4 separate regions of the Homo sapiens genome follow, and all the other regions are linked to region 1. The links come from fine-mapping of genetic effects on gene expression. A gene starts in region 1. Each other region holds a variant in brackets. All regions are shown on one strand. Distances are from middle to middle.

Evidence for each region.
Region 2: its variant is fine-mapped to the expression of TRNT1 in whole blood (TOPMed, PIP 0.98).
Region 3: its variant is fine-mapped to the expression of TRNT1 in whole blood (TOPMed, PIP above 0.99).
Region 4: its variant is fine-mapped to the expression of TRNT1 in cerebellar hemisphere (GTEx, PIP 0.96).

Annotation. Positions count from the first base shown.
Region 1 is chr3:3,123,685-3,131,829 of GRCh38, reverse strand. It overlaps TRNT1 (tRNA nucleotidyl transferase 1), which reads right to left and starts at 4,890. Exons shown (of 8, transcript NM_182916.3): 1 at 4,840-4,890; 2 at 2,642-2,816. The coding sequence starts at 2,789. It overlaps LOC124909339 (a long non-coding RNA gene), which reads left to right and starts at 4,999. Exons shown (of 2, transcript XR_007095786.1): 1 at 4,999-5,270. RefSeq lists enhancers at 4,327-4,406, 3,829-4,559 and a silencer at 4,767-5,186.
Region 2 is chr3:3,175,326-3,183,470 of GRCh38, reverse strand. CRBN (cereblon) reads left to right here and starts at 3,780. Exons shown (of 11, transcript NM_016302.4): 1 at 3,780-3,850. The coding sequence starts at 3,784. RefSeq lists a silencer at 3,547-3,716. The variant C/TGC (reference allele first, on the strand shown) is at 3,666.
Region 3 is chr3:3,157,268-3,165,267 of GRCh38, reverse strand. The region is part of intron 5 of CRBN (cereblon); the gene reads left to right. Among named protein-coding and RNA genes, the nearest start is that of CRBN, 18 kb to the left of the region's middle. The variant G/A (reference allele first, on the strand shown) is at 3,794.
Region 4 is chr3:2,725,480-2,733,624 of GRCh38, reverse strand. The region is part of intron 4 of CNTN4 (contactin 4); the gene reads right to left. Among named protein-coding and RNA genes, the nearest start is that of CNTN4-AS1, 330 kb to the left of the region's middle. The variant G/A (reference allele first, on the strand shown) is at 3,224.

The DNA.
Region 1 (8,145 bases):
AATTTGTTTGAGTTCATTGTAGATTCTGGATATTAGCCCTTTGTCAGATGAGTAGGTTGCGAAAATTTTCTCCCATGTTGTGGGTTGCCTGTTCACTCTGATGGTAGTTTCTTTTGCTGTGCAGAAGCTCTTTAGTTTAATTAGATCCCATTTGTCAATTCTGGCTTTTGTTGCCATTGCTTTTGGTGTTTTGGACATGAAGTCCTCGCCCACGCCTATGTCCTGAATGGTAATGCCTAGGTTTTCTTCTAGGGTTTTTATGGTTTTAGGTCTAACGTTTAAATCTTTAATCCATCTTGAATTGATTTTTGTATAAGGTGTAAGGAAGGGATCCAGTTTCAGCTTTCTACATATGGCTAGCCAGTTTCAGGTTTAGAACGTTAAACACAATTGTTAAAATGATGTTCAAGAAACTATAGTAATCAATATTTAGAACCTTATTTCCAAAAAATGCAGAATGACCTGAGTTAGGCCATCAAGAGTTAATTACTACTCCTTCTTCCAAGAGGCCTCTTGCAATTGAAGTTGAAAAATTGGGGGCTGTGAAGGGCATACACAGAAAGAAAAAAGCTTCAACTCAACCCAAAATCACAGCTTCAAAATCTGCACTATTCAAACAGCAGCCACTTGTACTTACTGAGCACTTAAAATGTGGTAAGTCTGAATTCAGATGTGCTGTATTAAATGCATGCCAGACTTCAAAGACTTCCAAGTAAGAATATAAAATATCTCATTAATTTTTTTTTTTTTTTAAAGACACGGTCTGTGTCGCCCAGGCTGGAGTGTAGTGGCACAATCTCGGCTTACCGCAAGCCCCCCTCCCAGGCTTCAGTGATCCTCCCACCTCAGCCTCCCAAGTAGCAGGGACTACAGACACATATCAGTATGCTTGCCTATTTTTCATATTTTTAGTAGAGATGGGGTTTCACCGTGTTGCCCAGGCTGGTCTCAAACTCCTGGGCTCAAGTGATCCACCCACCTCAGCCACTCAAAAGTGCTGGGATTACAGGTATGAGCCACCATGTCCAGCCTCCCAAAGTGCTAGGATTACAGGTGGGAGACACTGTGCCCGGCCTCATTAACAATTTTTATACAAAATTCATACTGATAGTATCTTAGATATATTGGATTAAATTAGATGAACCAAAAATAATTATTAAAATTTATTTCACCATTTCTATCTTTTTAATGTGGTTAGTAAAAAAGTTTATATTACATATGGGCTCATAAATTTCTATTGGACAGCAATTTTTAGCAATTTTCACTCTCTCCAATTAAAAAAGATAGTGAAGCATCGGCAAAACCAAACATGCATTTAAGCCCTCTACTTAAAGTCTGCCTAAAACAATCTAAAAGAATCAACATATTCTGGGCCATTTATCTCTGGCACGTACCTAAAAAGCCATCATCCAATTTCAAGAATGGGAAAGTAGCTTTGAGAATAAGCTAATACAAGGTGAGTCATGTTAAAGTAATGGTTCGTCTATCTTCTGTGCATCAGAATTAACTTGTGGAGCTTTTATTAAAAATATAGATGGTCATCCCACCCAGAGATTCTAATTCAGTAGGCTGCAGGTAGAACCCGAGCATGTGTGCTTTAAAAGCTCCCCAGGTGAATCTAATAGATAGCCAGTGCTGTATAGGTCATATTTCTACATATACTACTAAATATATTTATGAAGGTGCTATTAAAATTCCCACAGGCTTTGTAATGCTACTGTGTGGCTGCTTTAGCAACATCAGCAGACAACATTGAGAATCAACACTAATGAAACTGTGGCAACAGCAAGAAGCTACTGGCACTTAGCTAAAGCCATTTCCTATGCTCCTTCCAGACAGGTTTTGCAACGTGCACAATGGAGGCAACTCCTATTTCCTTCTTCCTTCAGTTCTCATGGAAAGCATTTATACCTAGGAAGGAAACAGAGCTTAGCGGTTGCAAGCTGGGCTCTGAAATCAATCTGCGTAAGTTCGAAACCTAGCTCTCTAGTTAGTAGTTACAGAAACACAGGCAAAGCACTTCACATGCCTAACAATCTGTTTCCTTTTTCACGTAACAGGTCAAAATGTGCGTACTCATTAAGTTAGTAGCACCAGTCCTGTAATGAATGGCAAGTACTTAGCACAGCATACAGAAAAGCCATGCTTTTTACTGCAGTCAACTTCTTGCCTTTTCCAGTGATTTAGCTATATTTTTGGATCAGCCATATGTAAGCCTTTCTCTTTTAATATTCCTTTCTCTTTTTTTGAGACAGGGTCTCACTCTGTTGCCCAGGCTAGAGTGGCATGATCATAGCTCACTGCAGCCTCAAACTCCTGGGCTCAAACAATCCTCCTACCTTGGCCTCCCCAAGAGATTACAGGCTGGGTACACCCAGCCAAGCCTTTCTTCCAACAATGAAAACGTGCACATTGGGCACCGTGGCTCACACCTGTAATCCCAGCATTTTGGGAGGCCAAGGAGTGAGCCCAGGAGTTTTGAGACCAGCCTGGGCAACACAAAGAGACCCTCTACTTACGTTTTTTAATAAAAATAATTAAAACAACAATGAAAATATCCGAATGCTGGCTTAAAAAGTTAACCCTCTACTTCTCCATTTATATAGGTTTCCAATCAAGAAAAGGTATCCTAATCTCTCACCTGTCAGACTCTTCAGTCCTTCTGTGAAAAGTGACTGGAATTCGGGAGACTGCAACTTCATTGTGAATAGATACTGCTTCGGAAGGCACAGCCTACTCCACCTACGGTTCAGCACTGGCCTGTGCCAATGATACAGGCACCTCAGCATCTGGAGAGGCAGTCACCAACTACACATCTACAAGGCAAATACACAGGCATACCAATGAAATTAAAAGTGAAGGTAAGTGAAGGAAAACAAAGGGGGACACATTTCAAGTTTATCAACTCAGAAATTCATCTCTTGTTCAGATGAAAAAACTGAAAACGGTGTCAGTTTGAGGGATTACGACTAGGTCTATGTATCTACCTGGTTTTGTTCTCCAGAAGCACTTACTGTGGCAGGCGGGGTCTCACTAGCGCAGGCCTCCATAACTGTTTCAGTACTGACTGACTGGTTGAGTTACATATTAAAAGCTGAAAGAGCCAGCCAGTGCCCTTAAACAAGGCTAGAATGTAACAAAAGCCCCCCAAGAGTTTTGCCTAGGCCTTTCCTGGACCTTGAAGCATGATAAAATAACAAAGGAATTCTTTTTTTTTTTTTTTTTTTTTTTGAGATGGAGTCTCGCTCTGTCGCTCAGGCGGGAGTGCAGTGGCGCGATCTCAGCTCACTGCAACCCCTGCCTCCTGGGTTCAAGAGATTCTCCTGCCTCAGCATCCCAAGTAGCAGGGATTACAGGCGCACACCACCACATCCGGCTAATTTTTTATACTTCTGGGTAGAGACGGGGTTTTACCACGTTGGCCAGACTGCTCTCGAACTCCTGACCTCAAGTGATCTGCCCGCCTCAGCCTCCCAAAGTGCTGGGATTACAGGCGTGAGCCACTGAGCCCGGCCACAAAGGAATTCTTAACAGGACCCGTTTAGAATTAAACAAGTTTTACTGGGGATCTGAGGAAACTCCCCAGGCCTCCACGAACAAGTTTATTAGGGGTCTGAGGGAACTCCCCAAACCTCCATGATTTAGCAGGAGAGAATATAAGGGTAATCACCCCAGCACCTGGACCCATTTAGATTAAGTAAATTTACTCAGGCTCCAGAGGAAGGTCTTCAGGACTCAGATCTTATGGGTAAGAAGTTAATCACTTGTATCTTTAGATCAATGCACACTTACACATAAACATACAACTTACAAGGTATATAAGCTCTGGAAAGCTCTGTAATTCTGAGTCGGTCTGGGATATTTTCCACGCCTTCGCCCCGTACCTGGTTACAGAAATAAACTCCTTTCTTTCCTAGTTTATCTGCATCTCATTATTGGGCAGCGAGAATAAGCAGCCCAACCCTCGGTTTGGTGGTTTGGTCGGGGAGCATTACCACGACACTCGCATGCCACATGGTACTGTGATGACACTCTCCCCAGAGCAGGGCTTCAGGCAGTATGAGAGGGATGCGGGGTTCTAGAAACTCTAACCGAGTTTCTGGTCTCCAAAACTTGTCATGGTCACAGGTGGGTATCACCCTACTTCCCCACCTGCACTCGAGGATTCACGACCCTGGGATAGCTCCTAGACATTGTATTTTCCCATGAATTTAGTTTTGCTGCCCCCATTTTCCTGATTCTTTTCCTGCCATCTTGCAATCTCCTCTGATTTCTGGCACACCGCGGCCTTCCCTTCTACATATCACATCCTCGTTCTCCCCATACGGGGGTCCTGCCCATAAGGAGGCCGCAGCAGCTCTCGAGTGACCCCGGTGTAAACCTGCAGAGAAAAACCATTCCATTCCACGGAAGCGGGTGGAGGAGCCGCGCTTCCCGGCAGGCCACGTGGGGCGGAAAGACCCACTCAGTTTCCTCGCACCTCCGCCTCGACTTAGGAAAACGCTCTGGGGAACCCCAGCCCTGAAAAGGCGCGTCTCACCCCCCACGCCGGGTGCTGGCGACAAGGCCCAGTGAAAAAGCGTCTCGGGGCCGTCCGCGCGGAGGGGAAAGTGCTGAGGGAAGCCAAGGAATCCGCGCCTGCGGTCGCCGGAAACGTGGCGGGGACACGACCTCCGCGTCGGGGCTATTTTGCCCACTGCTGAGGAGGCCTCTCGCCACGTCCCGCTCCCGTCTTCCTCGAGGACCGGGCGCGGTGGCGCCTCTGGCCCACAGCAGGAAGGAAGGGGCAGCAACTCACGCCACCAACTCTGCCCCTCTGAGCGGCGCGCGCCCGCTTACCGGCCCCGCTGTTGCCGCAGCCGCCACCGCCGCCACGCGCACTTCCGGGCTGGTGAACGCGGTGACGTCACCAACGCACATGGGTTGGCGGCGAATGGGAAGTCGCGGCGGGGCGAGGGCGAGTGCGGGGGCGGGGCCCGGACCGAAGGGCTTCCGCCTCCCGTCGCTCCTCCCCACCGTGAGGCGAACCTCAGCCGGTTTCCCAGCCCCGCCGAGGCCCGCTGGGGCGAAGCGGAGCCCCGGGGGGCCCTGAGGAAACCGGCGCGGGTTCGTTTAATTACGCCCTTCTCGCCAGACCTCTGGCTGGCCCTGAGCTGCTCAGAAGCCCATCTGCGCGGCATGCCCGTGCGATCTGAGACAACTGGCAGCTGTCTTCCTTTGCAAAACGAGACTGTTAATAAAACCTACCCCAGGGTAGGACGGACTGTTCGGTAAATGTTAACTTATCCGTGTTTGACTATTCTCTCCTCTAATCTCTGCATAGGGTTAAGTCCACAGTTGACAGAGTCACGCGCATTCGAAATCTAAGCCCGCCGGTCCTATGAACTTACTGGGCATATTTTATTTTCTTACCTGGTTTGTGTAACCATTGGCCTCCTTGGCCCGGAGGCTTCCCATCTGTAACGTGGAGAACTTAGATTTGATCCAGTTCATTAATTCTTTCTAGAGCGGAAAAGAGCAAAGAGAGTGGCAAAGGAGTGGGAATACAGCCGTTGAGCCCTTAAAGTGCGAAAATGTGTAGTTTTTGTTTTGTTTTGTTTTTGAGACGGAGTTTCGCTCTTGTCGCCCAGGCTGGAGTGCGGTGGCGCGATCTGGGCTCGCTGCAACCTCCGCCTTCCGGTTTCAAGCGATGCTCCTGCCTCGGCCTCCCGAGTAGCTGGGATTACAGGTGTCTGCCACCACGCCCGGCTAATTTTTAGTAGAGACGGGGTTTTGCCGTGTTGGCCAACTGGTCTCGAACTCCTGACCTCGTGTTCCCCAGGCCTCGGCCCCCAAAAGTGCCGGGATTACTTTTGCCGGGATTCGGCCACTGCGCCCGGCCGAAAATGTGTAGTCTTTTAAGTGTAACTTTACATCACTTAGCTTTCCCTAAAATTTTCCTAGAAAAATGCTTGTGCATGTTATTTCTGTTCTTTTGCCCTCCCCACATGCCTACCTGTTCTTCCCAAACTTTTCAGCCCCACTCTCTGTAGACTTCCTAAAACGTAAAAAGTAAGATGTGCAATTACCACACCTCTTCAAGGTGTTGAATATCCTGTTTTTGGAAGCACAGGACTGGCTTTCCAAATGGACATTCAGAGGCACAGCATTGATATCATCCGGTGCAAGGATTTTCTGTCTCTCTCTCTCTTTGGGGCAAGGAAAGCCCCAAATCATCCTTTCAGGCTTGTCTGCTATTTCTCACCACCATGACCCTAGACAAACTGGACCAAAGCCTCCATTGCTGTACCCACCTAGAATAGATTCTCCAAATCACCACCTATGAAGGCAACGCTAATACAACTATTATGATGACTTACTTCGTGCCAGTTACTGTGCTGGGCACCCTCAACAATTTCTGGCCTTGTAAATATATAGTTTATATATGCAGGTGTATATACAGTTGTCCTTCCGTATCCATGGGGTATTGGTTCCAGAACATCACCCCAGCCAGTGTTCAAGTTCTTTACATAAAATGGCATAATATTTACATATAGACTATACACATTCTGTAGTACAAATCATTTCTAGATTACTTATAATACCTGATATAAATGCTGTGTAAACAGTTGTTATGCTATATCGCTTCTTTGTGTTTTTTAATTGCTATTTAATTTTTTTTTTTTTTTTTGAGATGGAGTTTCACTCTGGCGCCCAGGCTGGAGTGCAGTGGCACGATCTCAGCTCACTGCAACCTCTGCTTTCCAGGTTCAAGCGATTCTCCTGCCTCATCCTCCCAAGTAGCTGGGATTACAGGCACCCGCCTCCACGCCCGGCTAATTTTTGTATTTTTAGTAGAGACGGGGTTTCACCATGTTGGCCAGGCTGGTCTTGAACTGCTGACCTCAGGTGACCCACCCACCTAGGCCTCCCGAAGTGCTGGGATTACAGACGTGCGCCATGGTGCCCCAGCCTTATTTAATATTTTGACCTGTGGCTGGTTGAATCCACTGATGGAGAACCCATGGCCATGGAAGGTCAACTGGAGAGAGAGAGAGAGAGAGAGAGAGGAGAAAGAGAGAGAGTAAGAGAATTCCTCCTGTACTGGCCAAGACAATAAAACAAAAATAGGGGTATTACTACAGATCATGTAGATATATATGAGGAGGTATTATAAACAATTTTATGCCAATTAATTTGACAATGTAGATGCAACGCACCAATTCTATAAAAAAGACAATTTATCAGAACTGAAATAGGGTAGAATTTAAAAATCTGAATAGCTTTTCATTTTTAAAGAAATTGAATTGTTGTTCAACAGACTTCTCACAAAGATAATTCCAGGCCCAGATGGTTTCAGTGGTCAAATTTATCAAACGCATAAGGAAGGAAGAACTCCAGTCTTGTGCAAAGTTTGTTTAGAAAATAGAGGAGGAAACAGTTTTCCTCTCATTTTGAGGCCAGCATAACCCGCATAACATAAAATCAACACTACAAAAAAATTAATATACAGCTTAATATACCACATGACCATAGAAACAAAAACAACTTTAATAAAATGTTAGGAAATTGAATCCAACAGTATATAGAAAGATAATACATCATGATCAATTTGGGTTTGTCCCCAGTGCAAGGAATGCAAGTTGTATTTAATGATCTAAAACCAATCAACGTAATTCACCATATTAACTGAAAAAGAAAAACTGTTGTCATCACAATAGATGCAGAAAGACCACTTAAAATTCAATCCCTACTCATAAAAACTGCCAAAAAAATTAGAAGGGACTTCCTCAATATAGTAAAGGTCATTCATGAAAAATCCATAGCCAATATCAGACTTAGTGGTAATATATTGAACACTCTCCCCCTTATATCAGGAAGAAGGCAAGGATGCCTCATCTTACCACTTCTTAACATTTGTCTGTAGTTTATAACCATTAACAAAGCAAGAAAAAGATATGGAAAGTGTAACAATTCAAAAGGAAGTAAAATTGTCCCTATTTTCAGATGACATGATGGTGGTTTATACAGAAATCATAGGAACTGACAAAACTACTACTAGAACTAACAAGTAAATTTAGGAAGGTCTCAGGATACCAGGTTAATATACATAAATCAATTCTATTTTTATATATTATCAGCAAAAATATAGTACATAAAAATATA
Region 2 (8,145 bases), 52 kb before region 1:
CAATTTTGGATCTTTGGACTAGGTTGGCTGGTTTTATCCATCAAACCAATATGGGTCTTAATCTTCATCCCAGATGGAAGTGGGGAGGAATGATATCTTTGCCTTTCATCATGGAGGAAAATCTCTTCTAAAAGTTATCTTCCCTCTTCATTCTCAGAGGCTACCAAGCTGACTTTCTCTAGGTGTCATTAGCCAGGACCAGATCAGGTGATACCATCAGCCATAGAGGAGCTTGGAGGAATAGAGTGGGCTCGTTATTACAGGCTTACAGCAAACACGACCCCATAGCAGAGTACACTATTGCCCCAAACAAAATCAGAGTTCTTGGCAAGGAAGGAAAGAGGAATTGCTGTTGAGTAGGTAGGAAATCGGTGTCTGCCAGAACTGTGCAATTCATCTTTCATTTAATGAACATTTTTTGAGCAGCTTTTAAATGCCAGAACCTGTTCTTGGGAGCAGAAATTCCCCATTCAGACCTTATACCTTTGAGGGGGGAGAAATGAGACTGTTTTTAAAAGTAAGCCTCACAGTATTTTATTATTCTATTATTATTATTTTGGAGACAGGGTCTCATTACGTTATCCAGGCCTCATAGTATTTTAAAAGTTGAGAAATGCTTTGATGAAGGCAAATGAAGCAGAGAAGGGTAGAAAATGGTGGGAAGTGTGGGAAGAGGGTCACAATCTGACACTGGGTAGTGTGGGAAGGACTCCCCAAGGAAGGGGTATTTGACCCAAGACCTGGAAGGTACAAGGGGAAAAGTCACGCATCTATGCAGGAGGAGAGCACTCCAGCCAAAGGAAAAGGCAATTGCAAAGGCCCTGAGGTGGCCATGGGTCCATGTGGTTGTGGAAGAAGAAGATCAGTGTTGATGGAGGGGAGGGAGAGCCCACAGAGCAGCAGTGAAGTGACATCAGGGCAGGATATTGGGGGCCCACTGTGCATTATAAGGGCCACTGCAAGGGAGATGGGGAGCCAAGGAAGGGTACTGAGCAGGGGAGTCACATAATCTGACTTGTGTTTTAACAGGATCGCTCAGACTGCTTTGTTGAGAAAGCACTGTGAGAGCTAAGGGTAGAAGCCGAGAAACCAGTGTTGGTGCTATTGCCATACTCCAGGCAAGAGATAATCAACCGCTTAGACCAGAGTAGTAGCATTCTTTAACACATTAAAAAAATATGTAGAGGCTGGGCATGGTGGCTCATCCTTAATCCCTTAACCCCAGCACTTTGGGAGGTGGAGGTGGGCAGATTATTTAAGCTCAGGAGTTCAAGATCAGCCTGGGAAACATGACAAAACCCCATCTCTATAAAAAATACAAAAATTAGCTGGCCGTGGTGGCTGGTGCCTATGGTCCCAGCTCCTCTGGAGGCTGAGGTAGGAAGATCACTTGAGCCCAGGAGGTGGAAGTTGCAGTGAGCCAAGATTGCACCACTGCACTGCAGCCTGGGACAGAGCAAGACCCTGTCTCGAGAAAAAAAAATTTTATATATATATATATATATGAAGAGAGACAGAGAGAGAGAAAATACAATATAAAGGGAGACAGAAATGTCCTCTCCCAGTCTATGTGCTCCTTGCTGCTAATATTGTGTAGAAGCCAGAAATGGAAAGAGCGATGGTCCTTTTCATTTACATTTTCTCCCGTCTTCTACCACCCTTAATTCTGTACTATTAAAGTTAATTCTTGAGCTGTAAGACAGTGATCTATGAACATATATATTTCTTTTCCCTCTGGCTTGCAGAGCTCCTTATCCATTGATACTGCACGCAAGCAAGAGGAAATGTTAGGAACAACTCAGTATGATATCTTCTTTCAGGATAAAGTTACCAAATTAAACAAATGGTAAATGACCATGTTTTCCTTTTGGTTTTAATAACCAGTGCTTAATCCAAGAAACCTGCTTGCTTAGATATTTTTGTTCAATGATCATCTGTTATCCCTACTGAAAGGTGTAGCTGTGGATGACTAGGTAGACTCCGGAGGGATAAAATGAAGGAGGGAGCAGGTGGTGAATGTGAAGAGTGGAGAGGAGAGGAGGAGAATTGGGGAGTAAAAGATACACAGATGTGAGCTCCGGTGATCTGTAGCAATGCACAAAAGAACAGAGAAAGAGCCAGTGCTTCTCCAGCCACATTTGTAGACTCCACCAGCCTTGCAGCTGTGCTTTCTCGTCCGGAGAAGTCTTGATTGACCCAGGGTTCAGACAATTCTGGTATCACCTCTGGGGAGAAAGACTGGAAAGTCAGAGCTTACTTATTCAGAAGCTAGATGCTTGTGTAAAGAAAATTCTACTGCACGTAAGCACAGGTTATTGAAATTCTACAAACTGTAGTGAGACATAATGTTACAGCATCAAACACACACACATATTACTTAGTGCATGCTCCCTGCTTGCTTGCGTTCTCTCTCTCTTTCACGTGGGCACACACACACGCACACCAATACACCGGCCATTCCCTCATCGTTCTGTGCTGGCATTCTGGCATAGAATCATCCTTCAATTGACTGGAGTGATCACCTTAACTCCGTTAAATCATTACGTAGTATATGTAATTGTTATTAACCTCATCGTAAAAGGTGATGCTATGATTCATGTTGCAGACATTATTAACTGGAACAAATAGGCGACACTATTTGGTTCGTTCTTATTTTGCAAATGGGCGAATTGAGGCCCGCAGCCATAAGTGATTTGACGAAGACCACAGACTGATTCGGAGACAGGAGGCAAAATGACACAGGAATGATTCACAAGCCTCTGTCACAAGGGAGTTTTCTGCTTGTAACTTATCAGGGAGGCAAATTTTCTGAAATCATTTTTTCAAATCTCAGATCCATGACTTTTCTGTTGAGCAATGCTGCTGCTTCCTCTCAGCCTCCGCCCACCACCACCACTACCATGTTTAGATGTTGTATTTCATTTAAGGATTTTTCAGTTTTCCTTCCTCGCTGAAAAAGTGATACTGAAATACACTACGAAAACTTTTGTCCTCCCTCCAAAACAAATATCTTACCAGTCACAACTCCACCATTATAACAGAATTATCTTCATTTTTTACATAGTCTTTCTTTTTTGCCACAGTGACTTGTTTTTACATAGCTGAAGTCATAATGAGTAGGCTAGTTTATATTCAGACAATTTTATTTACCAATTATAAGGCGTTTTCCATTCTGTGCAATCATCATTTCAAGTATGTTTCTGATTAATACTTGTTAATTTTGGAATGTAATGTACATATATGGAAACTACTGAAGTTATTGAAGTTGTATGTACATACATTGAAACTACTGAAGAAAATCAGCAATAATTCAACCACCCTCGGAATAACTGATGGATTTCCCCAGCCTTCACATATATGCTTCTTATTTTAAGAATTGAAACTAATGCTGCATGAACAGGTTTCTATTTGCTCCCTGCCCCCTTCGTTTAAAAACAAGGTGGAGACTAAAGGCTCTCAGCCTCAGTTTCTCCATATGCAAAATATCAGGATTAAATAAGTCATGCTAAGGGCTGGAACAAAGTGAGGGCTCTGCAGCGTGTACGCCGGGCACTCAGCCGTGGATGGCAGGGGACGGCGTTCTGTCCCCGGGACGGAGCGCAGGCCTGTAATTGTCCCTCCCGCCTAGGCCATCACTTTCAGGCTTGGGTACGCGCCGCCGTCTG[C/TGC]TCCCCTGGGGCCGCCAGGGGGCGCTGTGGCCCCGGTGCGCGGCAGCCGCGCGACACGGGCCCTCCCTCGGAGTCTTCGGCACCGCCCTGTCCCAGCCTCCTTTGCGGGTAAACAGACATGGCCGGCGAAGGAGATCAGCAGGACGCTGCGCACAACATGGGCAACCACCTGCCGCTCCTGCCTGGTAACCGCCCGGAGTAGTTCCCTGTAGTCGGGAGTGGGGCGAGGCTCGGAGCCGCTAGCGGTGCAGCTGGGCCTGGGAGGCGGGCGTGGGGGCGCCAAGCCTGGCGAGCCAGCCCAGCAGGGCCGCACCGGAAAGCTGCTTCACGTCGGCCCTCGGCCAGCGATGGAGTCGCGGCGCTTTCTTCGCTGCTCTGTTGCCCCGAGCCGTGAGCCAGGGTGTCGGGGGGAGCATTTGCTATTAAGAACAGGAAACCCATCCTCTCCATCCTCCTTGTGTTCTGAGTTTAGCTCCTAGGAAATGCTCTGAAACTAGAGGACCGGGTCAGATTCACAGCGGTTACTTTTGCTGGTCTCCTTCCTTTTAATAAGAGTGACAGCTAACATGTACTAAGCACTTACCATGTTACGAGCCGTGCAGTTAACGCTTTGCATGCATGTCGCCTTTTAATCCTTCCCACATCAGTTTTCAGTTTCCGATTTGATAAGCGAGTATTGGATTTGCAGATTAGTTCAATGACTTGCCCAAGGTCACACAGCAGAGTCAGGATTCCAACCCGGGTGTGTCTGTCATTATATCTCTAAACCACTTCTCTGTTTTGTTTTTCTTACTATCGGTCTTTCTCAGGCATGTACGATTATGCTTAATCAGAGATACTTAGTTTTTCTTTTTCCTGTATGTTGTGTGAAATGTTTAGACTTTGGCCTTGTGTTGAAATACTGAACAAAAAAAAAAATGCATGGAATATTGCATAAACTTTTCATGGAATGCCTTTCAAGAGATGCTTTCCAAAAGGTGTATCATCCAAACTTGAAAGTATTACTTGAGTCCCTTCGTTATATGACAAGTATGTTAGGTGTTGTGGAGATGAAACGAGAGGTAATACACAATCTGATAATTGAGGTTTACTGTCTAGGCGGGGCTGCTGAGAATATAACTAAACGTAAATCAACTGCAGAGGCGGTTGATTTAGGGCCAGATAAATGAATGCTGTTGTGGCTCTTCAGAGGCAGAGGTTGTTTAAGGGTCAGAGGATTTGGGAAAAAGCCTTTCAGGTAGATCAGGAGACATCTAAAAGCACATATTTAGGATATGGTTGTGGGACATAAGGCCTAGGAGGTATATTGGGTCTAAGTTGCTGGGAAACTGGCATCTCTTGCCAGTGGGTTTGGGTTTTTCCTGTGGATTGCCAAGAAACAGTTTTAGGTTTCAGGTAATTGCCTAAAGAAATCTATGCTTGGAAGATTAATTTGTCCACTGGTAGCAGCATGGATTAAAAGAGGAAGAGACTGAGTGCGTGCCCACCATATAGGAGAGAACTTTTCTGTAAAAATAAACCATAGTCACTGGTTGTTCTCGAAGCCATTCTAGCTGAGTTGACACAAGGGTAAGTGTGCCAGCCTTTGATGGAAAGCTGAGCTATTTTTTCAGAGACATTAGCCCTACTCTCTGTGCCAAATCCGGTGTTTCAGGGAGAATGGTGAATAGAAGAGGGAGGATACTGATCTTCTGTCGACATTCACATCGTGCCTCTGCATGAGATGAGTCATCAGACTTCACTGATAGCTCTGAACAGTCAGCGTGGTTTTTTGTTTGTTTTTTTTTTGTTTGTTTTGTTTTGTTTTTTGTTTTTCAGAAAAGCGTCGGGAGAGGGCCCAGAGATGGTGTAGATATAGCAATAATGCCTCTCCAAATTACGTAAATTTTATTTGTAGGGAAACACTGGGCTTTCCATAATTCCATGTAGTACGAGTTGTTCTGAAGAGTAAATCCTCTAAGTTCCAACAAAAAGCTTTATATTTGAGATGTGAAGAGTTTATCCTAGGCAAATGAAACATTAATAAACATAACTGAGTAGGGGAAAGTGGTTTTTAGCCATATTTATGAAAAAAAGGTTACTAAAGAAATTATTTAGAGACTAGGAGTCAGAACAGTTAAAATGTAAATTTTTAACAATATTAATTCCAGCCTTTGAGCTAATAGTTTATCTTTTAAACTTTCTGTAGTAGAGCAATAAAGTGGGTTGTGCTGCATGCCAAGTGATAGCCATACTGTCAGAGTTGGAAATACAAACAATTTGATGCAGAATATTTTTGTCATCCATTTAGATAGCTCTTTTTTTATCTCAGTGAAACTTACATGTTCCAAGGAAAATTTGTATGAAGTGTTAGACCATTGGCTATTTACATATAAGTTGAAGTAATTCTGTTTTTGACAAAGTTTTATATCTAGGAAGTTGTAATAATAAATAGAAAGTCCAAGGCAGTTACCATATTGAAAATCATTTTTATTTTCTGTCAGGGGCCTGGCTAGAGGTGGTTTGACTTAAATAATGATATGCAAAGGAAAACAAATGATTATTTCGTAATGACATTTTATCGATTTAGAAGTTTATTTGGGGCATTTAAAAATACATGAACTGGGAGGTGAGAAATGAGATTCAGTAATTCTTTATTGTTAGTCTAGGCCAGGGTCTCCCAACCTCAGCACTGGACTTTTGGGCTGGAGAATTCTTTGGGTGGGATTGTCTCGTGCATTGTAGGATATTTAGCTGCATCCCTGGCCTCTACCCACTAGATGCCAGTAGGACTCCCTTAGTTATTGCAACCAATATCCCCTGAGGGGCAAAATCACCTGTGGTTGAGAGTCACTGGTCTAGGATAGGAAATTTACTCATAGTTTGTATGAAAAGGACAGACTCACAGTTAGTACAATAGCATATGTATTGTGTAGCGTTTTCTAATTTTCTTTGCTGTCATTGGTAACATCTGGTTTTCTAAGACATTCTTTTAAAATGTTTTATGCTTCATGCAAACTTTATTTTTAAATTTAAAATTAAGCAAAATAGTATGCAAATGATTGCAAAATTTTCTTTGTTTCTTTCTTTTGAGATGGAGTCTTGCTCTGTCGCCCAGGCTGGAGTGCAATAGCACAATCTCAGCTCACTGCAACCTCCACCTCCTGGGTTCAAGCGATTCTCCTGCCTCAGCCTCCCCAGTAGCTGGGATTACAGGCACCTACAACCACACCCGGCTAACTTTTGTGTTTTTAGTAGAGATGGGGTTGCAACATGTTGGCCAGGCTGGTCTTGAACTCCTGACCTCAAGTGATCTGCCTGCCTCGTCCTCCCAAAGTGCTGGGATTACAGGTGTGAGCCACCACACCTGGCCTTCATTTTAAGATAATGTAGCGACTGCCAGGGAAATGTTGTCACTAGAAAAATGCTGTGAAATTCTTCCTGCTAGGTTATCTTTCTCTCAGTTTTAATTAACAGATCTTGCCTGCTTTGTTTCTTTTCTTACTTATGTAGGAACTGATTGAAGTTGAGAGTTTGAGAGAACGTTAGAGGTTGACTTGTTGAAGCCTATCATTTTGCAGATGAGGAAACTAAAATTTAATTGGGCAGAATGAGTTGTCTAAGGTGTTAAAATTAGTTACTGGTGAGGGAGAAGAGAAAAATCTCCCATATAGAAGAATTTTAAATAACTTACATTTCCTCTTCAAGGGAGTGGAGCATAACTCATCACCCCTGAAGTGGAGGCTACACCTAGTGATTTGCTTCCGAAGGGTACAATGTGAAAAGGAGGGGGGAAAGGAACTTTACAGCGGAAAAACCTGACACACACTGCTGTAGCCAGGTGATCAAGGTTAACAGCAGGAATAGTTCATAATATATAGGCTGGATATGTAATAAAAACAGCACATTGGCAACAGACCCCATTTCTAAAAAGGAAAAGAATAACAACACTTCACTTCTGTGGTCTTCCTCCCTAAAACACGTATCCTCAGTCTAATCATGGGAATTACATCAAACAAAACCCAGTTGAGGGATACTCTACAAAAGGCCTGACCAGTACTCCTCAAAACTCAGAAACAAGCAAAGTCTGAAAACCCCCCTAGCCCAGAGGAGGGTAGGGGGACCTGATAACTAAATGTAAAGTGGGATCCTGGAACGCAAAAAGACTAGATAAAAACTAAGGGAATCCATTTAAAATATGAAGCTTAGTTAGAGTAATGTACCAAGACTGATTCCTTCGTTGTGGCAAATGTACCATACTAATATAAATTAACTATAGGGGAAAAGGATGTGTGACACACGGGAGCATTCTGTACTATCTTTACACTTCTCTGTAAATGTTAAACTATTCTAAAATTCACAGTTGACTTAAAAAAAAAAAATAGCTACTGACAGAGCCCAGCACGGACCCCAGTCCTCTGGCTCCCTCTTCACGGTGCTGTAGAGTTTACCAAATGCATGTGGTTTTAGAAGTACCCCTCTTTTGAAGAAGGAATTACAT
Region 3 (8,000 bases), 34 kb before region 1:
ATTCTGAATTCTTTGTGTCATTTCAACATTCACAACATCTTCAGCAGTAGATTTCTTCTCAAGAAACCACTTTATTTGCTCATCCATAAGAAGCAACTCCTAATCCATGTTTGATCATGAGATCACAGCAATTCAGTCCTATCTGTGGGTTCCACTTCTAACTTTAGTTCTCTTTTTGTTTCTGTCACATCTGCAGTTACTTAACTGAAGGCTTGAAACCCTCAAAATCGTCATCCATGAGGGTTGGAGTAAACTTCTTCTAAATTCCTGTTAAGGTTGATATTTTCACCACCTCCCATGAATCATGATTATTCTTAATGGCACCTAGAATGGTGACTCTTTTTCAGAAGGTTTTCAATTTACTTTTTCCAGATCCATCAGAGGAATCACTATCTGTGGCAGCTATAGCCTATGAAAAATGTATTTCTTAAATAATAAGATTTGAAAGTTTAAATTACTCCTTGATCCATGGGTCACAGAATGGAAATTTTGTTACCAAGCATGAAAACAGCATTAATCTCCTTGTATGTCTCCCATCAAAACTTCTGGGTGACCATGTACATTGTCAATGAGCAGTAATAATTATAAAGAGTCTTTTCTGAGCAGTAGGTCTCAACAGCAGGCTTAAAATATTCAGTAAACCATTATCTAAACAGATGTTCTGTCATCCGGACTTTGTTCCATTTACTACAGAGCACAGGCAGAGTAGATTTAGCATTCTTAAAGGGCCCTAGGATTTTTGGAATGGCCAGTGAGCATTGGCTTTAACTTAAAGTCACCAGCTATTAGCCCCTGAAAGGAGACTTAGGGACTTTCTCTGGATTAGGCTTTGGCTCAACGGAAATTTGTGGCTGGTTTGATCTTCTGTCCAGACCATTAAAACTTTCTCCATATCAGTAATAAGACTTTTTGGCTTTCACCAGAGTAGCATTTCATATTCACAGCTTTGCTGTTTGCCCCAGGAGGCCTAGCGTTTGGCCTCTTTCAGCTTTGACATGTGTTTCTAACTAAGCTTTATCATTTTTAGCTTTTGATTTAAAGTGAGAGATGCTTGACTACTCTTCTTTTCACTTGAGCACTTAGAAGCCATTGTAAAGTTATTAATTAGCCTAGTTTCAATATTGTTGTGTCTCAAAGAAATAGGGAAGCCTGAGGAGAGGGAGAGAGATGGAGGGGCTCGTCAGTGGAGCAATCAAAACACATTTGTTAAGTTTACTGTCTTAAATGGGTGCAGTTTGTGGTGCCCCAAAACAGTTACAGTAATAACATCAAAGTTCACTAATCACAAATCATCATAACAGATATAACAATGAAAAAGTGTGAAATATTGTGAGAATTACCAAAATATGGCACAGGCAGGTAGTTAGCACATGCTGTTGGAAAAATGGCTTGATAGACTTGCTTGAAACAGGGTTGCCAGAAATCTTTAATTTTTTTTTTGTTTGTTTGTTTTTAAAGGCAGTATCTGTGAATCACAGTATGCCTGTATTAAGTATTTGGGTATATAGAATAGTTCTTCCGCACCAAGATGGCTTAAAAATTCTTAACCATTAAAAATCCTAAATTAACGCTTCTTTGCAAAGTTCTAAGTATAGAGTGAGAGCAGTGGTAGTTAATTCCTGACTCAAGTGCTCTGTACAGCTAGTTCTGTGACCTGCCTGTAGGATCCTGCAGTCTTAAACCTGAACTTGGGCTAAGCAAGTAAGACTGCTTTTTAAATTTATTTTTTATGTGAGTTACTACTTAAATTCTTCCTGTTCTATGGTTAAAGCATCTTGTTTACATTACATTCCGAATTTGGCCCATGCAACTGGGTTGCCACTGGCTTAATAAGACAAGAAAAGATAGAGCTGGGAAGACCAAAGAAGCACATATTTGCCTGGGTTCAGATCCTCTGAATTTTTCCTCTTGTCTTAATTAGCCCTTGGTTATTTTCATATTCAGAGTTGCCAAGGGCTAAAGAGACGATGCTAAGGAATGAGAAGGCCTAAAAGGTTTTAGGTGATACAAATAACTCCATCCCATATACGTCAGGTTATCTACAGGGTTCCCTTGCTTAAACATTGATAGAGTTTCTTAGGTTCTGAAATTTGGAATCTAGATCACTAGGCCAAGAGAAACCGCTAGCTGATCTATTTTGGACTCCAAGTGACCTACAAACTCTGTTCTGCTTTAGAGAGACCACTTAGAGCCATTCTGTGTGCATCAAAAAGGAATCCAACAGGGAAAGGGGATGGCAGATATCTTTGGTAGGAACTCCGTATGCAGTGGGACCATCTGAGTGGTTTGGCATGCTGCACCTTTAGTGGGACGCTAGCTTACCATGAGGGCTGGATTATGTAACAGTGTTTGTCTTTAGACAGATACAAGGTTCAGTTCATTCCTGTCTTCATAGAGCTTGCTTGTATCTGATTTGTCCATCCCACCATAATCTGAAGTACTGCATATGTGTCTTCTGTCTCTGTGTCTGAGTAGTAGTTAAAATGGTCAGAGTTGGGAGATGCTTACATAACTAAGCTAACTCAAGCTAATAAGGTTGCCGCGCACTTTTCCTGCAGAAAAGGAACTTAAAGTATCGAGGATTGTAGTCTTCCTGAGATATATTCAATTAACTTTGAAACTGCACACAGCATTTGCCGTGGAAACCTAAACAACTCAAATGACATGAAATAAAATTATTTAAGCTTCTGGAAGTGTTCTGTGTTATCTACCATTCTGACAAGGAAGCATTAGAGAAGATTCAGCACGTGTCTCTCATGATTAAGGAGTTAGGCCAGTGTAATTAGGAAACACTTTCAAAACCCACTCCATCTAGAGACATTTCTTGTTCTGGAATTTGAGCTCTGAAACTGTTTACTTCTTCTCCCATCACAGTGCCTTTCTCTATTCACTGGTTTACTGTAGGGGGATTTGAGAATCCCCCTACAGTAAAAATCCTCCTCAAAAAAAAAGAGGAAATTTTGTTTAAACCTGTTTGGAGTATGACTTAAATGTTTCTAAGTATATTCCCTGCTTGCCCAGACCATCTGCTTATTCATATATCAAGGCTTACTATGTTAATCAGAAAAGAGTTGAGTATGAAATGTAAAGATAAGTCAAATGGGAAACAGATACTAAGAAAGTAATGAGTCTCATCTTTCTGGCCTCTGTTGAACTTAGCCATGGTTGTTCCTGTTTATTGCGTAGAGCAGGGAGGAACTGAGCATGAATTTGGAAGGGCAGGGGTCTCATACGTAATCTCCCAGATTAGTGTTTAAATCTCCTCCTAATTTTATCTAGATACAAATGTTCTTATTTCTTTCTTATACAGAAGGATACGTACCTTTTTCTTAACGGTGTATCTTATAGGAGATTCTTTTGTATTAGTTTATAGAGCATTGCTCATTCTTAAAGCTGCTTGGAATTCTTTTGTATGGATACACTGTATAACCAGTCCCATACTGATGATAGATCTGTACTAAATAACATGTACAAATGACCTTTTATATAGGTAAATATTTATGATAACTTTTAAAGAGTGAGGTTATTGGCTCACAGGGTAAATGCATTTATAATTCTGTCAGTTTTAAAAATAATTTTGAGGCCAGGCACAGTGGCTCACGCCTGTAATCCCAGCACTTTGGGAGGCTGAGGCGGGTGGATCACAAGGTGAGGAGTTCAAGACCAGCCTGGCCAAAATGGTGAAACCCCGTCTCTACTAAATATACAAAAATTAGCCGGGCATGGTGGCGGGTGCCTGTAATCCCAGCTACTTGGGACGCTGAGGCAGGAGAATCACTGGAACCCGGGAGGC[G/A]AGTTATTTTCAAAATACTTAAGGTGTTTGTACTTATTTTTATTGTTTCATCATGGCCTGACAGGCAATGTAGTATCAAACCTGATGTTTGCTGATCTGATAAGTGAAATATATTACATTGAAGGTTCAATTTGAATTTCTCTGAGAGCAAGGGTAAGCATTTTGTTGTAAGAGCAGTTTGTGTTTCCTTTCTGTAAAGTGTTTGCCCATTTTTCTACGGCTTGTTGATTTCTTGGGAGTTCCTTGTAAGCTTTATAGTCTCTGTAATTAATGAGTTCCAAACATTTTTCCTAGTTTGTCTTTTGTCTTTTGTTTTTGGTGTGGTGTGTCAAACAGAACTGTTTTTTTGTTGTTGTTCTTACATAGTTTAATTTTTAATGCTTCTGTATTCTAAATCATAGCCAAAAATGACGTTCCCATGCAAAGGAATGTCTCATGTTTTCTTTGGATACTTGCTGTGGTTTCATTACTTTTCCGTGGAAAGCTCTGATCCTTGTGCAGTTGATCCTGATATAAATTCCACTTTACTTTTTTCCAGATGGCTCCCTATTGTCCTACTACCACTTTTTGAATAGTCCATATTTTCTCCCATTGATTTGAGATGCCACCATTGTCACAGACCAAATTCATATGTTTATTTTACTTTTCTTCTCTTTTGGTCTGCTTGTGTGCCATCATCATATTGTTGTTAATGTTGGCACTTTATACTTTGTGTAAATAAAAATAGGGCTGGTAAGCCCCTCACTGCTTTTTTGTCAAGCTTTTCAGTGACTACCATTGATTAACATTTCCTTGTGAACTTGAGAATCTGTTTCACCTTGTTCCAGGATAATAATCGTAAGAACAGTAACATTTATTGACTATTTTTATATAAAGAAGAAAAGTCTTGAAATCTTAGGCTATGTATAGTCAGGTGCTTCCTCAGAAAGACTGGTCATTTCCCAGGCATACATCTTGTATGTACACTTGTGTATCTGCCATTAGCGTATAAGCCTCAGGAGTAGGAAAGAGCTTATCATTCCATCCCAGTTCTTATTACCATGTAGGAATTTGGTTCATGAAAGAAGGAAACAAAAACTGGTAACTTTTTAATTATTTATATAAATTATTTCTGTCATTTACATTGCTGATTGTAATAGGATTTAACACAATAAGTGACCACTTTTAGTCACTATATAAAGGAAGTCAGTGGTAGTGATTTACTATTTATGTTTAGCTTTTCACATTACTCTTTCCATTTTCATTGCACTTCAAAGACTCACTTAAATGGAGTTTCACATGTTTTGAACATTCTACGTTGTTGGGAGGCAAAGCCGAAGCCATAGTTATGAGGCTTAAGAATGGAGGACTGTGATAGATTACCTCCAGGTAACAGATTCGTTTTAAGGGCTTTTATGCCTGCTTTCAGTAGTAAATCCTGTTCCCAGAGTGAATACTACTCTGCTGGAGAATCCGTCATTGGTCACTTTTAAGTGCCTAAACTTTTTGGCTAGTATTAAAATTTTCTTGAGGTATAACCATTTTATGACATCAATCATGGTGTTGATATATTTAAAGAATGCCTATAAATTGCTAGAACTTATCATCCATTTTACCCAGATATAAGACAGGAGCCTTTCCTATTGTGCCAGAAAGCTAAATGGGACTCTTAAATTTGAGGATGTTGAAATGTCTTAAACTTTGGCAGTTGCTCTGTAAAAGCTAGCTAGCTAATCTGTTCTGGTATATGTCTCTTCAGTGTGTCTAATTGACTAACACACATCACAAATATTAAGGATGTATTATGCATATTTGAATCTGTCAGGATGCTCCAGATAAAGAATTTTAGAGGTCTTCTGACTCTGAAAAGAAGCTACCTGAAACTGTAGCTTGCTCATGGGCATGGTGGCAGAGTGAATGCCTGATCCAGTGCATTGCTCTTAATATGCTAGTGTGCCACATTTTATTCTCTTTATACTTGAAATTTACATATTATTTCAGATTCTTTTTCTTGACATGGGTGCCAAATGAAATTACACTTTTGTACTACACTTTTTTACATTTCTTTTGTATTACAAAAGTGACCATTCTGATATGTGAAGTATATTTTAATAACTGAATGAGGAGTGTGTCAGCGAAACTAAAACTTTCAGTTGGGTCTTTGTCATTTTGTAATTCTAAGAATATATAGCTTCTTCTCTCTAAAATATAAGCTCGACAGGGTATTGAATTTTGTTGGTTTTTCTTTCATTCACTGGCATAGCCTAAATGTATAAAAATAGCCTGACACATGTTAGGCACTGTATTAGTCTGGTCTCACGCTGCTAAGACGTACCCAAGACTGGGTAATTTATAAAGAAAAGAGTTTTATTTGACTCACAGTTCAGCATGGCTAGGGAAGCCTTAGGAAACTTACCATCATGGCAGAAGGGGAAGCAAACATGTTCTTCTTCACATGATGGCAGGAAGAAGTGCCAAGCAAAAGGGTCAAAACCGTCTTAATAAAACCATCAGATCTCGTGAGAACTCACTATCATGAGAAAACCATGGCAGTAACTGTCCCCATGATTCAGTTACCTCCCACCAGATCCCTCCCACGACACATGGGGATTATGGGAACTACAATTCAAGATGAGATTTGGGTGGGGACACGGCCAAACCCTATCAGGCACTCACAATATTTGTTGAATGAATGATGGTTAGAGTCAGACTCCCTGTATACAGATCCTAGCTCCTTCCTATTTACTGACTCTGTGACCTTGAGCAAGTTATACCATCCTTGTGTGCCTCTGTTTCCTTACTTTAGAATGGAGATAATAAACTACTAACCTTAGAGTATTCTTACAAGAAATGTGAAATTCTTGGCACAATACTAATGGTTGCCATTGCTGTTCCTGAAGATTCAGAGCTACTTGATGTGCTCTTGGTAGTATTTTCTTAAATTCTGTAACTGGACTGTGACAATAATCTTACCATTAGGTATTTAGTCTTAAAAGTGAGGGACAACTTATTGGAGAGTACCTGAAGGGTCTCATGGTCTGACTCCTCAGGCTTTAACCACTACCAGAGCACACAGTAGGAGGCCATCTCAGATCACCTTTGGCAGGGGTCCCCAAATCCTGGCCCACGAACCAGCACTGGTCTGTGGCCTGTTAGGAACCGGGACGCACAGCCGGTGGTGAGTGGTGAACGAGCAAGTGAAGCTGAGCGCCACCTCTTATCAGATCAGTGGCAGCATAGATTCTTATAGGAGCGCAAACCCTATTGTGAACTGCGCATGGGAGGGATCTAGACTGCGTGCTCCTTATGAGAATCTAATGATAAATGTAATGCACTTGAATCATTCCAAAACCATCCTCCACCCCATCTTTGGAAAAACTGTTTTCCACGAGACTGGTCCCTGGTGTCGAAAAGGTTGGGGACGGCTGATCTTTGCATAGTCTCAAATATAAGGATTATATTAAGCCAGAAATGTTTCTCATTAAGGAATCCTTTGTTTTGAGCTGTAGGTCGTGTTTTAGAACAAGTCTGTCCTCTTCCATATTGCAACTCCTAAAATATTTGAAAACCAGTGTGTCCACTTGAGAGACAGCTCTAAACTGAACATCTCTGGTAACAAGACATTCCCTTTGATAATAAAAGTTCCCATATTTGAACAGCATGGAATAGAATAACATTGTCTCATAGATTCTAGTCTTCTGTTAAAACCGCAGTTACTTTTGCACCAAACTAACATAGCTAGAATAGGATTGGAGTGGCGGGGAAGTCGAGGGTGTGAGTGGTGTAGCACATTGTACAGTTGCGTAGTACAATTCCAGCTGTCAGCTCAGTCCCGAGTCCCTTTTATGTGTGCTGTGTTCCCACGTTTCCTGCAGATCTTACTCCGGCACTTGCAAGATCATATGACTAGGTATGAAACATACCTAGGGTAAGTATCATTCAGCGTATGAAACATACCTAGTCATTTGATATTGCAGGTGCAGGAGTAGGGTCTTCCTCTTGTTTTGTTAAATGTTACCTTGTTTTTCTTGTTCTGGTCTGTTAAAAGTGCCTTTTGATCTACCTTATTCCTTTTCTCTCTCACTTTCATGTGTCATGTCACATGTCAATTAACATTTTATTTACAGTGAAATTACAAAGATTTGTACGTATGTAGGTTTTGTTTTGAGAAAAATGTGATAATTCTTTATATTCTGCTATACCTTGTTCTTTGATCACTTGCAGAGCA
Region 4 (8,145 bases), 400 kb after region 1:
GAGGCGGAGTCTCCAGTGAACCGAGATCACACCACTGAACTCCAGCCCAGGCGATGCTGTGAGACTCTGTCTCAAAAAAAAAAAAAAAAAAACACAAACATGCACTTTAAAAAAAAAATTTGTGTTTAAAGTTGGATATTTCAAAATCCAGATATTTACATTTCAATTTCAGATTTTTAACAATTACACAGATATTTTCAAAACATATTTAAGTACTGGTCAAATGTGAGCTCACTTCAATGGTAAAGAATTAAGTGATTTTTGGCACATCTAGGTAAATGAAACATGTTATTCGTCAAGATCACTAATAAAGCAACAAGTTTGGTGGATTTTCTCTAAGAGAGAAATATTTCCATTGTTGTCCCCAATTCCAAAATTATGTGTGTGTATATATAATATCAATCATCTCAATTCATTGGTGTTCCCTGATTTGAATTTCATACAGAAATATAGAGTCTATTACTAGTTATTCCACATAAGAATAAAACGTAATAATGATTACTCAGGATGCAGCTGAGAGACTGTGGATTAACATCTGTACTGTTTCTCAATGTAGCCATGCAATATTTAAATAACAAAAAGATATTTTTTCTGTGTATTTTGTAACAAGAATTGATAATAATGATGCTTTGCATTCACTATAAATAATGCATTCCATCTAAAGTTTTTATTTTCTCATAGTTAACCAAGCTCACTGCCTGAAAATTAACATTAGCATAAAGGGAATAGTATTTCAGTTCTCATCGAAGGAAATCCACAGGCTTTTGTGCACGAGCTATTTGGGCTCACAAAGATGAAGGGAGAAATTTTAGAAAGTTTAGCTATCAAGGTATTAAAAAAAACCCAGATATCCTAGCTTTTAAACCTTCGGACCAGGGTTAACAATGTTTTTGAGAAAAAAGAGCTGCTTTATTTCACCAAAACCTTGAGGTGCCTGGGTGAGACAAAGAGTCCTGAGAGAGGCGTTCTGAGATGAAACAGGGGGAGAGGCATCCCTAAGTTTGTTCTATCTCTGTGTGGCAGCCACAAAGTGACTTTCAAGTGTCTTGAAGGCACATACAAAAGACTGCATTTACCGTTTTCAAAGCCTAGAAGATAAAGTTCATCTTTTTTTTTTTTTTATCACAGTAAGTTGTTCTATGTAACCAGAAGAGTGGCTGTGATTTTCAGTCTAAAGAGGTAAAGAGCATCGCAGCAAATGACAGAGGACAAGATTTAATAATACAATGCGTCTCCGAGTTAGACTGTAGACCACCTGCATTATTATCATGCCATGCTTGTTTTATCAAACCTCAGTCCAGACTGACTACGCCAGAAGAATCTGGGGTGCATTAATCTGCCCTTTAACCTAGCTCTCTGGGTGATTCTTCTGCACACTGAAGTTTGAGAACTACTAACACAGATCCTTCTATTCCTGGCTCTCCATTTCCTAAGAACAGAACATCGGCCAACACCGGTTTTAGACCCACTCCTAGACACATTTTTTTGGGGGCAAAGTCTAACCAACAAATCTTTGCTTGATAAGATTTAGAGAGGTAATTTTAGCACATGCCTGCCTGGACTAATAGTTGAGAGGGAAGCATCCAGGAACAGAAAGTTATAAAACTGACTCACATGAATGTGTCAAGGCCTAGGACTGACATAAACTAACTCTTTCTTAGAACACTTGTAGTTGAACTCCAGAAGCTAATTGTGAGACACCACCCTCCCCAACAAGCACTGCACTGAATTGACAAAGAGCAGGCATCCTTAGAGATCACAATAGTCCACTGACCTATAGTTATAGTTTGTCTTCATTTGTATACATAGCATTTATACTGTAACCACTACCATTTATTTATAAGTAATGAATGTCTTCTTATTTGAGTGACAGGATGTTGGGATTAATGTTTTTACACTTGGGTCCCCAAAAGGGTGAGAGTCGCCCCAGGGCATCATCTGCCTTGGAGAAATTAGGGGCATGGGCTCACATTATTAGAGGAGGGGAAGGCAATGATTTTCCACCCTTCTAGGAATTCCTAAAAATCATGTTAAGAGGAGGAATGAGGAATGAGGGAGTGAGCAGTAAGATTGCCAAGAGCTCACCTACAGTCTTGTGGATTCCAGACCATTGATCTGACACACAGCTTGGAGGATCTAGTGCAGGCACCAATACTGTTACATCATGATTTCATGATTTCCTGAGTTTGTTTCTCCTTGGTAACTAGGTACCTGCCAATCAGTCACTAGGCTAACTTCTATCAGACTACCAGTGTTCTGCAAAGTTCCATACCACGGTAATTATCTTGAATTAGGATGGATAAACCCATCTTCATAAAGGGAAGGGAGAAGACTAGGCTGAAAAAATCTGCTTTCATGCTTCAACAAGGAGTGGGAAATCTTTGGATTATCAGAAAAAAGCACAGATTTCATGACCAGAAACAAGGGTCCCAGAAGTAAAACATAGTGTCTCTGGGCTAATCTGAAATTTTTGGATTACTGAAAGAGATGCACAGAATCATAGAATTTTCCATTAGAAAATATTATTTAATATTATTTTCCTAGGTTACAGAATAAAAATGACCACATCTGTAATGGAAACAAAATATTTTTTGACTTAAAAAAAAAAACCCTCTAAGAAAAAGAGTAATAAAGCACCTCTCCGCAGCCGGGTGTCACTTAATTTATTTGCTGTATTGGAACATCAATGATCTCTATTTTTTTTTCTTTTAATTAATTTGGCCCACTTCCACATTTTCCTGAACTTCCCTCCCAGGCAAGCAGGATACTACTCAGGCTGCTGGAAGCGAGGCTGGGCAAGAGAATCTGAATGGATGGGGCTGGGCTGAGGCTGAGCAGAGAAAAATAAGCCTGAATCTCAGGTGATGGTTAACTCAAGGAAGTGAGGCAGATGCCCAAATATCAAGCCCACAGGAGCAAGTACAGAACAAAATCTGGATTCCAAGGGAAAGGTCAAAAAAAGATAACACGCATAAAGCAGGAAGCTAGAGGGTGGGTGGAGCTAGGAAAATTCCACTGATGCTAAATGTAGTTTTTTGGTTTTTATTTTTATTTTTACAGGGCATCTGTGAACAATCCTAGGAGCTGGACCAAGTCAGGCAGTAGATCTAATCTCAAAATAAACATTTCATAGAAAGCAACATAGTAAAAAGGTAAGTCAAACTATACCTAAAATAATTATTTCTCAAAGTGTGTCAAGAAACCTCCCGGCTGAAACAGGTGA[G/A]CATCCCTCATCCAAAAATCCAAAATCTGAAATGTTCCAAAATCCAAAACTTTTTGAGTGCCAACATGAGATAGTGACACCTGTGCTAGATGATTCAAAGTATAAACTTTGTTTCATGCACAAAATTATTTAAAACATTGTATAAATCACCTTCAGGCTATAGGTATAAGGTATATATGAAACATTAATGATTTTCATGTTTAGACTTGGGTGTCATCCTGAGGATATCTCATTATATATATGCAAATATTCCAAAATCCACTGCCACCCCCCACAAAAAACCAAAGTCTGAAACACCTCCAGTCTCAAGCATTTTAGATAAGGGATACTGAACCTCTATGACCTTAGCTAAGAGTGCTTGTTAACAGGTAGATTCTTGAGTCCCTCCCAGACCTACTGGATTCTAATTATCAGGACTCAGAAAACAGCATTTGAGCAAGCATCTCTTGATCTTTATGCATTCTAAAGTTTATTTTATTTTATTTTTTGAGATGGGGTCTCCCTCTGTCACTCAGGCTGGAGTACAGTGGCTTGATCTCTGCTCACTGCAACCTCCGCCTCCCAGGTTCAAGCGATTCTCCTGCCTCAGCCTTCTTAGTAGCTGGTATTACAGGCGCGTGCCAACACACCTGGCTAATTTTTTTTGTTTTTAGTAGAGACGGGGTTTCAGCATGTTGGTCAGGCCGGTCTCGAACTCCTGACCTTGTGATCCGCCTGCCTTCGCATCCCAAAGTGCCGGGATTACAGGCATGAGCCACTGCTCCTGGCCTATGCATTCTAAAGTTTTAAAACTAGTTATGAATTGAGCACAGACAACTTTCATTTTTCTTTTCTCTTCTTTTTTTTTTTTTTTTTTTTGAGATGGAGTCTCACTCTGTTGCCCAGGCTGGAGAGCAGTGGCACGATCTCGGCTCACTGCAACCTCCACCTCCCAGGTTTGAGCGATTCTCCTGCTTAGCCTCCCGAGTAGCTGGAAATACAGGCGCCTGCCACCACGCCCGGCTAATTTTTTGTTAATTTTGTGTTAGCCGGGATGGTCTCAATCTCCTGACCTCGTGATCCGCCCGCCTTGGCCTCCCAAAGTGCTAGGATTACAGGCGTGAGCCACCGCGCCCGGCCACTTTCATTTCTAAACAGGTTAGGATCCCAGTGAAGAAAAACTACCCTGCAGAGTTCTGTTCTATGTGCTAGATCACTCTGCGGCTACTCCGTGGGATGAAGGCCACATTTCGCCGCATGACCCTTAGAACAGCACCCTTTTCTTTTGCTGGAAGTATTTCCATCTGTTGCAAATTCAACTGACTCTGTTGGGAAAGAACAAAAATGCAATATTATGATTTCATCTTAGAAAACTACAAATTCCAGGTTCAAGTCTACTTGTCATTGCTGTGGTGTTCCCAGGTGTTGCACCTGAAACTTGTTTAAGCCCTTAATCCTAATGGCAGGTATGAAGTGCTGCCATAACAGCCAAGAACCCAGCACTGTGATATACAGTCAATCTTCCCATGACATCAAATGGGCTATTTGATTAAACACCTGGTCTTGGGTAGAAACACTTCAAGAGCAACAATTTTCACTTGGGAAGTAAACTCTAGGACACCTAATGGGGAACACAAGGGCTTGAATAGAAGCTTAGAATACCAGCCAGGGAAGACTGCATGGGTTTAGATATGAGTTGTACCTGGGTCACATCTGGAGGGTAGGTAGCTTTTTGCGTTATGCATGCACAGAAGTAACCTGGTGCAAACCAGAGTGGCTTTGCCTATATCCTGCAGAGCCCTTGACCAATCAAGAGAGTAAATGCTCCGTGTGTGTAATCAGTGGGAACGTGTTGCTTTATCAGATTGCAGAACAAAGTCACCAGGGAAAAGGAAGGGGAAGTTCTGCTAAGCTGGGTTGTTGGGTGTGCTCTCAGTGTCCTGCTCATATTTCACTTTCTCCCTCACCACTCACACCAAGGGGGAACCCAATGGGAAGAACCATTACTCTTTCCACCACCAGCATGTTCCAAGAAGGGCACACGTAGGGCACACTGTGTCCTGCTGGCTGTGAACCTTCTCCTCCAGGCTTCCTAATGATTAGGGAAATGCATTTTGGCTAAAAAACTGTAAGATCAGCAGCATCTCTGTGGATCTAAATTACTCATAAAACGTATGGGCAATAACCTAAGGAAATTCACAAACAAATGAAATACTGTAAGAGTGATTTTCCTGAGTGCAAGAATTCCTTTAAAATTCAATCACTGATTGTAGAAATGATGATTGGACAGCTGTCACACTATCATTACTAATACAATTTAGTGTTGTTAGTATTTATAAGACAGACAGCAAGGCATGTTCAAAGGCCTTACCCAAGTGCCTACTTGAAAAACTGGCCAACACACAGCGTTTCTATTGAATAAGTATTCTATTTGGTTGTTCAGCTGAATAGAGCAGAGGCAAAGCAAATATTAGAGGAGACAGACATGCCTGCTTAAAGGATAAACATTACTTTCATTTGTCATTGCTTCCGCCTTCCTTCTTTTAACCCCTCAAATGAGCATTTTAAACAGCAAGAAACAGAGAAGTCTACCGACAGCTGGTGTATGTCTGAAGGCACAAAGTGAAAAAAATCCAAATGAGAAGTGAACTCTTCTCAGACGATTTCTTTGTTCTCTTGTTAACAAAATAATGCTGCCGCCATCATGCATTTGTCCCACACATAATGAAGCCCTAATCGTTTGTAATGCCAGATCTTAGAAACAGTGGTAGGACGGGGAAGTGCTGGGAGCTAAAAAGGGTCTCTCCTTGGGGAAAAATTGTGCATTGCTCGAGGATTTTTAGGCGTGGAAAAGAACAGCCGTGGGGCTGTATCAATGTATCCTACTCTGACCCTGATCTTAAACCTTGACACATTCCAGGAACAATGGATTAATGACTCTTTTAAAAATAAGTAATTGGGTGATACTGACGCCAAGCCCTAGTTATGACAAGAAAGAAGCATTTCCAACAAATGCAAATACTTTGTAACTCATTTGGAGGCAAAAACTGACCTGAACTGATGGGAACTGATGGGAGACTATTTATAGACTCAATGTGAATATTCATATGCTTTGCTGCAGAATTAGAAATGCGTTTGATTATGCAGTGCTGACCCAGACTCAGCTGGGGATGCTATTATGTAACACTGGGCATGTTTTGTGGGCTATATTTCTCTTCTAAAATTACAAACATTTTAAATTCTCAAACATTTCTGACCCAAATGGCTTCTGATCCGAGTTTCTGGGACTAGATTGGATTCCAATTCCAATATTACATGGAGGCGACATAACCGTGTGCAAAGCAGACATTGTCCTGCCCTCATGGAATGTTTACTCTAGAGAGGACTAATAATAGTTATAGCTAACTTCATCTTTTTAATTAATAGAACTTTATTTTTTCAGAGCAGTTTGAGGTTTACAGAAAAATGGAGCAGAGCACAGAGAGTTTGCCTACACTCCTTCTCCACACAGTTTCCCGTATTGTTAACATCTTGCATTCCTGTGCTGTATTTGTTACAATCGATAAGCCAATATGAATGCATGCATATTAACTAAAGCCCACAGTTCACATCAGGGTCCATCACGTATTGCACATGCTGTGGTCCTGGCAAATGTATTAGGACATGGATCCACCATTACAATATCACACAGAGTAGTGTACTACCCTAACAACCCAGCGCTCCACTGCAGCAAACTTTCCGATTTATATTTAGGTGCATTACTGTTTACTCATGAGAATAAAAGCATAGAAACATACATGTATAAAATTGATTGGCTTTAGCTAGAGAAATGTAAATGAGATATCAGGGTCACTAATTCACTCAATGGTGCTTCCCTACTGGCATAACTATGTAGTAGACATCTGTGATTTTTGCCTCAGTATCCACTGCTCCTCATTAGGTAAGAGCATTCTACTCTTTCTTTGGTGAACCAACCCTCCTACTCTTTCAACTCAAGTGGTTTGGATAGACTAAAATCCTCTGCACAGGTCAGGAGTAGCAGATGACACTGCTTAGCATTGATAAGTTATTAATACTTATTTATACATTATCAATTGGCCTGACCAATTAATATTCCATTTTCTTGGTTAAATTGGTTCCCATGCATGGGTGACCAAAGCCTGGCTAATGAGACTCCATTGCAGGACTTTTCATAAAACTACAAGGAAAAAACCCTTTTGTAGTCTAGAATTGCTTACAGAAGGAAGCCTGGAGCTTCCAAAGACTCCCACATAGAGAGAGAGAACCTAAAAAGAGAATGAAGCCAAAACAGAAAAGAGCAAAATTAAAGGATAGGGACAGACTGAGTTCTGATGGCATCGTTTCAGCTCTGGAACAAGTTCCGTCCCAAGCAAGCTTTATCCCTAAGATTCTCAGATATGAGAGCTAATGATTGCCTTCATTTAAGCAAATCTGAGTTGCAGTTGTTATCAGCTGTACCTAAGAAACTCCTGATCAACACTATATGCATAGAAAGGTACACACCAATTTATTCAGTGAGTTATTTCTTCATGTCATTGGTCTTCGTTCTATTCTTATTTCTTTTTGACATTTCTCCAAATGTACTTGTGTGTGTGTGAATACATACAAGTAAGACTGGTCTTCAGCAATGTGGCAGGCAAAAGCCTTCTCTCTGTGGACTTACTGTTCATTTTTGTGTCTGTACTTCAACCTGAACACCACCGGGATCAACTACTCCCTAAAAATCTGCTTCCTTGAACTGTACCCCTTCTGGTATTTCTGGATGCATATGGAAAACTCCATCATGTGTGTTGTCCAGGCCCTTCCCCACTACAGGACAGTTTCTTGTTGTAAAAAAATATATATAACTACAATCTAAGTCATTCTGGAGACTGTTAGATTCAAGCTGGAATTCATACACTTTAATGGTGGCCTTTTGAAAA